Regions from separate parts of the Homo sapiens genome. Here all the other regions are linked to region 1. Evidence: fine-mapped expression QTL. A gene starts in region 1. Each other region holds a variant in brackets. All regions are shown on one strand. Distances are between the middles of the regions. Region 1 holds the start of MMP1 (matrix metallopeptidase 1). Region 2 overlaps MMP12 (matrix metallopeptidase 12). Region 3 holds the start of MMP3 (matrix metallopeptidase 3).

What was found. PIP is the estimated chance that this variant, and not a neighbour inherited with it, causes the effect. A credible set is the group of variants that fine-mapping cannot tell apart.
Region 2: its variant is the best candidate, but not a certain one, in a credible set for the expression of MMP1 in gastroesophageal junction (GTEx, PIP 0.80).
Region 3: its variant is the best candidate, but not a certain one, in a credible set for the expression of MMP1 in whole blood (INTERVAL, PIP 0.68).

Annotation. Positions count from the first base shown.
Region 1 is chr11:102,797,066-102,799,802 of GRCh38, reverse strand. It overlaps MMP1 (matrix metallopeptidase 1), which reads left to right and starts at 1,643. Exons shown (of 10, transcript NM_002421.4): 1 at 1,643-1,815; 2 at 2,303-2,547; 3 at 2,641-2,737. The coding sequence starts at 1,711. It also overlaps the pseudogene WTAPP1.
Region 2 is chr11:102,870,725-102,873,490 of GRCh38, reverse strand. MMP12 (matrix metallopeptidase 12) reads left to right here. Exons shown (of 10, transcript NM_002426.6): 2 at 379-626; 3 at 1,539-1,687; 4 at 1,772-1,897. Among named protein-coding and RNA genes, the nearest start is that of MMP12, 2.9 kb to the left of the region's middle. The variant G/A (reference allele first, on the strand shown) is at 1,270.
Region 3 is chr11:102,841,597-102,844,362 of GRCh38, reverse strand. MMP3 (matrix metallopeptidase 3) reads left to right here and starts at 754. Exons shown (of 10, transcript NM_002422.5): 1 at 754-921; 2 at 1,447-1,691; 3 at 1,784-1,932; 4 at 2,084-2,209. The coding sequence starts at 817. The variant A/TA (reference allele first, on the strand shown) is at 1,260.

The sequences.
Region 1 (2,737 bases):
ACTTAGATGAGGAAATTGTAGTTAAATAATTAGAAAGGATATGACTTATCTCAAATCAATCCAAGATATACTGAAGTATTGTTTATGAGTAAGATATCAGTCTTGACGCAGAAAGAAAACAGGAATCCATAAGGGGAGGAAAGTGTTGAAAAGCAAACCTGATACAGTGGGAAAGGTGGGAGACACCATAAGGTGCTGAAGTGATAAAACAGGCCAGTGTTTCTCCACTGTATGTTTTCAATAAATGCTTCCAAGGAAGGAGAGTGGGGCATGAGTAGGGGAGCTACAGAGATAAACCAACTTTTCTTACCAGGAATGCTACAGATAGCACTGGTGACACCGGTCACCAGTACCCAAGACAATTTAATGTGGAACATAAGTACAGGAATACACATCTTTCATTACAGAGCCATGTATTTATTTTAATGGGCAGGAGATGCTAAATAAGATCTTTTGAATGGAGGAATGCATAAATATATGAATGAATGCATACATGAAAGAATAAATAAATGCTGCCTAGCACCAAGGAGCGAAGATAGACTCATATCAAGGGAAACAAGTATGATTAAAAATAAGACCCCAGAGTCACGCTCAGTCTCTTTCCAGCCTTTTCATCATCCGGTACATTCAGACAAGTTTCAGGGAAGGATCCTATTTGTCCCATGATAATGATGGGCAAGGGGTGGGGAGTTATCTCATACTCCGCCTGTGGATGAGGGGTCTTCTCAGGTAAGGCTCTTAAATCCTAGGCCTGAGTAAATTTTTTCAAATTTTATTTTAGACAGGGTCCCTCTCTGTTGCCTAGGCTGGAGTGCAGCGGCACAATCACAGCTCAATGCAGCCTCAACCTCCCAGGCCCAAGTGATCCTCCCACCTCAGCCTCTTCAGTGACTAGGACTACAGGTGCATGACTCCATGCTTGGCTAACTTTAAAAAATGTTTGTTTGTTTGTTTGTTTTTTACAGAGATGGGGTCTCACCATGTTGCCCAGGCTGATCTTGAACTCCTGGGCTCAAGTGATTCCCCTGCCTCGGCCTCCTGAAATTCTGGGATTATAGGCTTGAGCCACCATGCCTGGCTCTGAGTAAAGATTAAGGGAAGCCATGGTGCTATCGCAATAGGGTACCAGGCAGCTTAACAAAGGCAGAAGGGAACCTCAGAGAACCCCGAAGAGCCACCGTAAAGTGAGTGCTGGGGGAGCTGAACTTCAGTCAGTACAGGTGCCGAACAGCCATCAGGTGCGCAGTGTTAGTAATTCCACCCTCTGCCCTGGGAGCAAGGTGTGTGGAGAAACCTGTAGCACTTTATGACCATCAGAACCAGTCTTTTTCAAAAAGACCATGGAGTACTCTTTGACCTGTGTATATAACAAGAACCTTTCTCAAATAGGAAAGAAATGAATTGGAGAAAACCACTGTTTACATGGCAGAGTGTGTCTCCTTCGCACACATCTTGTTTGAAGTTAATCATGACATTGCAACACCAAGTGATTCCAAATAATCTGCTAGGAGTCACCATTTCTAATGATTGCCTAGTCTATTCATAGCTAATCAAGAGGATGTTATAAAGCATGAGTCAGACAGCCTCTGGCTTTCTGGAAGGGCAAGGACTCTATATATACAGAGGGAGCTTCCTAGCTGGGATATTGGAGCAGCAAGAGGCTGGGAAGCCATCACTTACCTTGCACTGAGAAAGAAGACAAAGGCCAGTATGCACAGCTTTCCTCCACTGCTGCTGCTGCTGTTCTGGGGTGTGGTGTCTCACAGCTTCCCAGCGACTCTAGAAACACAAGAGCAAGATGTGGACTTAGTCCAGGTAAATGCTGCATTGCATGTGACAATAATGTAAATTTTTAGTTTGTATTTTTCTGCAGTAATGTAATAGAGTTTTTTAAGGATAGGTTTCTTATAAAGAGATTTTTTTTTTTTTTGCTAGAAACAGCACCCTCCACCCAAAATGTATCTAGCCATGCATACGCTCTCTTTTTCCAGTTGGAGGTGAGAGTGAACTAAAGGAACAACATCCAAACTTGTCTCCACAAATTGTAGACTTGTAACAGTATGCAAATCTTGCTCTACAAAAATTGCTCTACTATGAAGTTCTTACTTCACAATAACTAATAGTAGGGACATTTCTACTCTGAAATTTCATTTCTCACCAAAAATAAGGATAAAAGCAACTGCGAAATCTAAACACAAGGTTTAAAAGCAGTTCTCTGTTTTGGCTAAAACTTAATGCCATCAATTTTTAGAATAATGAGAAAGATTTCCCATGCAGTGTTTCGATAATTTTCTTTTGTCAGAAATACCTGGAAAAATACTACAACCTGAAGAATGATGGGAGGCAAGTTGAAAAGCGGAGAAATAGTGGCCCAGTGGTTGAAAAATTGAAGCAAATGCAGGAATTCTTTGGGCTGAAAGTGACTGGGAAACCAGATGCTGAAACCCTGAAGGTGATGAAGCAGCCCAGATGTGGAGTGCCTGATGTGGCTCAGTTTGTCCTCACTGAGGGGAACCCTCGCTGGGAGCAAACACATCTGACCTACAGGTAGGCAGACTGAGGGCCAGAGTGAGAGAGCTATTTCCCATGACAGTGGTAAGAAGTCATGTCCAATGTGTCTCTATTTTGTTTCATTCTAAGGATTGAAAATTACACGCCAGATTTGCCAAGAGCAGATGTGGACCATGCCATTGAGAAAGCCTTCCAACTCTGGAGTAATGTCACACCTCTGACATTC
Region 2 (2,766 bases), 74 kb before region 1:
GTAGCTGGGACTACAGGCATGCACCAACGCTCTGGGATAATTTTTGTGTTTTTTGTACAGAGGAGGTTTCGCCATGTTGTCCAGGCTAGTCTTGAACTCCTGGGCTCAAGAAATCCTCCTGCCTCAGCCTCCCGAAATGCTGGGATTACAGGCCTGAGCTACTGCTCCTGGCTGACATGTCTTTGATAGCACAAAAAATTAAGGTTTTTTTTCCTGATTATAATTAATTGTCCAAAAAACAATAATCTAACCTGTGAGTAAGATGTGCAAAATTCCTGGTCCAAAAGCATCAGTGTGCAATTGAGTCATATATGTGGAGCTCCCAACAGAAATTTTCTGTGTGTACTTACACATTGCTGAATGTATTTTTTTTTCCAGAGATACTTAGAAAAATTTTATGGCCTTGAGATAAACAAACTTCCAGTGACAAAAATGAAATATAGTGGAAACTTAATGAAGGAAAAAATCCAAGAAATGCAGCACTTCTTGGGTCTGAAAGTGACCGGGCAACTGGACACATCTACCCTGGAGATGATGCACGCACCTCGATGTGGAGTCCCCGATGTCCATCATTTCAGGGAAATGCCAGGGGGGCCCGTATGGAGGAAACATTATATCACCTACAGGTAACGTTGGTGTATGTCGCCCTGTATTTTTCTACTTTCCCATAGGTCTGACTTCTAACCTGAACCAGTTAGACAGCCCTAAATCTGGAAGTAGATAAAGTAACCTCCCTCCATTGTTAATGCTATCTCTGCTAAAATTCATTTTCTCTAGAAGGAAGAATTGTTCACTCAGGGGAGAATTGTTTGGCTTGCCAGTCCAAAGCAGATTTTAAAAGCTGCAAATAGGCCAGGCACGGTGGCTCACGCCTGTAATCCCAGCACTTTGGGAGGCCAAGGTGGGTGGATCACGAGGTCAGGAGATGGAGACCATCCTGGCCAACATGGTGAAACCTCGTCTTTACTAAACACACAAAAAAATTAGCTGGGCGTGGTGGCGCGCACCTGTAGTCCCAGCTACTCAGGAGGCTGAGGCAGGAGAATGGCGTGAACCCAGGAGGCGGAGCTTGCAGTGAGCCGAGATCGTGCCACTGCACTCCAGCCTAAGTAACAAAGTGAGACTCCATCTCAAAAAAAAAGAAAAAAAAATCTGCAAATAAAAGGAGAATGAAGCTAAATTTACTATAAATAAGATAATTTACTATAAAGAAGAGACAGGGAAGTTTATAGAGTAGTCAAGATGGATAAATGCAGAACCTGGGAGCAG[G/A]AGCAAAAAGCATAACCTTCTATGAAAGCAAATCCTTCACAGTGATGATCTGTGAGTTTTAAATAGGAAGAAATTAAGTTAGATTTTGGTTAAGGAGGAGGCTGTCCAAGAAAAAATGTTTCTGTAGTTAATGAAGCAAGTTTTAAAATCTGGACTCTTGATTTATGAAATGATCCATTTTCCAATTGTGCTAGCAAAAATGAAGTATTGTGGTAAGACAAAATAACACTGCCTTCCATACATTTTTCTCTCTCTTTTTGCTGATAAAGAATCAATAATTACACACCTGACATGAACCGTGAGGATGTTGACTACGCAATCCGGAAAGCTTTCCAAGTATGGAGTAATGTTACCCCCTTGAAATTCAGCAAGATTAACACAGGCATGGCTGACATTTTGGTGGTTTTTGCCCGTGGAGGTAGGGAACTTGTATTTCATCTTTGTCATTTGGCATGATCTATAGGATGTATAGAAGGACTAATTTTCTTTCCTTTTCCAAAAGCTCATGGAGACTTCCATGCTTTTGATGGCAAAGGTGGAATCCTAGCCCATGCTTTTGGACCTGGATCTGGCATTGGAGGGGATGCACATTTCGATGAGGACGAATTCTGGACTACACATTCAGGAGGTGGGCAAAACAAACAAACAAACAAACAAAAAACTAAGCAAACAGGAAAGGAAAACAACAAAAACCCTAACAAATTCAAAATTCTGGTTTCGAGAGACTACATTCTGACAAATGATTATATGATGGAAAATCTTGTTCTGATTATAATTTTGCCTCTAAATCAAATTTAACACTTCGTATGGGTCTCAATTTTACTCTCTGTAAATTGAGGATATTAAACTAGATCATCTTGAAGATCAGCTCTAACAATCTATGAGGATGCTATGAACTATGAGCTAGTTCATTAGCATAAGCTCAGAGGAACCTTAAGAAGCATAATATGAAAAGGTAAAAGCTGTTAATTAGGTGGTAAGTTTTTTTTTTTGAGACAAGGTCTTGCTCTGTCACTTAGGCTGGCATCACGTATCATGATGCTAACTTACTACAGCCCGGAACTCCTGTGCTCAAGCAAACCTCCCACTTCAACCTCCCTAGTAGCTAGGACCACAGGTGTGCGCTACCCACCCGGCTAATTTTTTAATTTTTTATAGGGACAGGATCTTGCTATGTTGCCTCGAGATCCTCCTGTCCCAGCCTCCCAAAGTGTTAAGATTGCAGGCAGCCTAGGTGATAAGTTTTTGACCTAGTGAAATCCATAAGCTCAAAAGCAAACACATACTAATTCTGTGTGTGCCAACAATTAGAGGATAAGATGGTCATCTGTATGATTCATAATATGCTGACAATTTCTTAGATTCATAGTGAGCAAGAAAGAAAAAGTTACAGAGAATCTAAGCATCCCTATAGAGAAACACAAGATTATACAGCCATGTACTTTCATGTGGTCTTGGGATAAAAATTTCAGAATGCCCAACTGAACATTTAATACC
Region 3 (2,766 bases), 45 kb before region 1:
AGGACAGAGAGAATTTCAGTCCGGTAAGCAATGTAATTCATTTCAATTCTACAACTATTTATGGAGCAGCTACGTGGGCCCATCACCCATTAATAAATTGGTTACAGAATTAAAACCAACCCAAAGGGAATATACTTCCTTCTTTTTCACAGACCCTCTTTGTTCTATTCTGCCCATGAGGTTTTCCTCCTCAAGAACCAGCAAATCCAACGACAGTCAATAGCAGGCATTACAAATCAGATTCAGAAAAATAAATCACCCCTTCTAAATTTCTTCTAGATATTATCTTTTATGTTTTGAGTATAATTGTATATAGTATAGACTATAGCTATGTATGTACACTTTCCACTTACATCTTTTATTTGCTTTTATAATGTGTTTCTTAAAATAAAACTGCTTTTAGAAGTTCTGCACAATTCTGATTTTTACCAAGTCAACCTACTTCTTCTCTCAAAAGGACAAACATAAATTGTCTAGTGAATTCCAGTCAATTTTTCCAGAAGAAAAAAAATGCTCCAGTTTTCTCCTCTACCAAGACAGGAAGCACTTCCTGGAGATTAATCACTGTGTTGCCTTGCAAAATTGGGAAGGTTGAGAGAAATTAGTAAAGTAGGTTGTATCATCCTACTTTGAATTTGGAATGTTTGGAAATGGTCCTGCTGCCATTTGGATGAAAGCAAGGATGAGTCAAGCTGCGGGTGATCCAAACAAACACTGTCACTCTTTAAAAGCTGCGCTCCCGAGGTTGGACCTACAAGGAGGCAGGCAAGACAGCAAGGCATAGAGACAACATAGAGCTAAGTAAAGCCAGTGGAAATGAAGAGTCTTCCAATCCTACTGTTGCTGTGCGTGGCAGTTTGCTCAGCCTATCCATTGGATGGAGCTGCAAGGGGTGAGGACACCAGCATGAACCTTGTTCAGGTAATTAACACTAACTGACCTGGCCAGGTGGGGAGCTTCCAGAGTAAGCTGAAACCATTCTGTGTGTCTTAAAACCCACATAGAATGCTTGAGCTTACTGTGTAGGAACAGTTCAAGAATAGAGAGTTATAGAGTGTTGGAAGTGGAAAAGGTCTCATTATCACACCATTTGGGCTTCTCCTCTTATGTAGGAAGAAACAAAGGCCAGAAATATTAGGTGTTTTCTTAAGATCACACAACACCATAGCAGTAGCAGCACTGGGGCTTAAGGCACATGAGTAACAAGTGGAGAGTGGATGAACCATATCTTGCTTTGGAACAGCTTCAGTTTTTTTTTT[A/TA]ATGCAACGTAATTTTAGCTAAATATTTGTGTTGCTAGTATCATATTATAAAATTTGCCATTATTTCAGCAAGCTAGAGAAATACTCCAAATAGATTAAGAAGTGAGCAACTGCAAAAACTTACTATAAATAGATAGCTATAGTAAAAATTGTAAGAGTGACCTAAAAACTATACTTATTCTGTTAGAAATATCTAGAAAACTACTACGACCTCAAAAAAGATGTGAAACAGTTTGTTAGGAGAAAGGACAGTGGTCCTGTTGTTAAAAAAATCCGAGAAATGCAGAAGTTCCTTGGATTGGAGGTGACGGGGAAGCTGGACTCCGACACTCTGGAGGTGATGCGCAAGCCCAGGTGTGGAGTTCCTGATGTTGGTCACTTCAGAACCTTTCCTGGCATCCCGAAGTGGAGGAAAACCCACCTTACATACAGGTAATGGTTCAGAGGGGTTTTCACATAAGATTGGAATTTTATAAACTATATCATAGGAGAAAATAGCATCTGCTTCAATTTTTCTCCTACAGGATTGTGAATTATACACCAGATTTGCCAAAAGATGCTGTTGATTCTGCTGTTGAGAAAGCTCTGAAAGTCTGGGAAGAGGTGACTCCACTCACATTCTCCAGGCTGTATGAAGGAGAGGCTGATATAATGATCTCTTTTGCAGTTAGAGGTAAAAAAAAAAAAAAAAAAAAAAAAGCAAAACAAAACAAAACAAAAAACACATGAAATGTATCCATTCATCTATCTGGTGTTGTTGTACTGGAAAAGGCTCAAAAGGGATCCTTGTTACATATCTTTCCAATAAATTTTTTTCCTACTAGAACATGGAGACTTTTACCCTTTTGATGGACCTGGAAATGTTTTGGCCCATGCCTATGCCCCTGGGCCAGGGATTAATGGAGATGCCCACTTTGATGATGATGAACAATGGACAAAGGATACAACAGGTTAGTTACACATCTCTCAGAATGATTTTGGCATTAATTTTTTTATATGTAGAAATCTGTTAATAACCAAGAATGCTCAAGAAATGAGATGTTCTGGATTTTCCAGTGGATCAGAGATCAGCAGAATATATTTTTGTTTTAATTATTATTGAAAATATTTTCAGATGCTTTAACAGTTTTCCTATATTGGTAAGCACAATATAGGAAATATCATTAAGTATTTCTTTAATGACTGGATCTTTGTGATCTAGGGGTAACCATTATTAAGAAAAATTTCTCATATCAAAATACAAACATTCAAGGGATAGTATATTGCACTGAATCTACATTAAAATGTGCTCTGGATGTTACTTATGTAATTTCCTCCATTTACTTCTTTACTCTTCAAACCAGAAATAAGAATTAAATTTCAGAAACTGAGATTCTCTTTTTTTTTTTTTTCTGGCTGAGGCATTATTTTAGTACTTTTAGGTTAAAAGAATTTTTATGGGCTTGTTCTGAAGGAAAAGACTAACTCCCAAATACAACGTTCAAACTGTTTAGGTAGAAGAATGTTT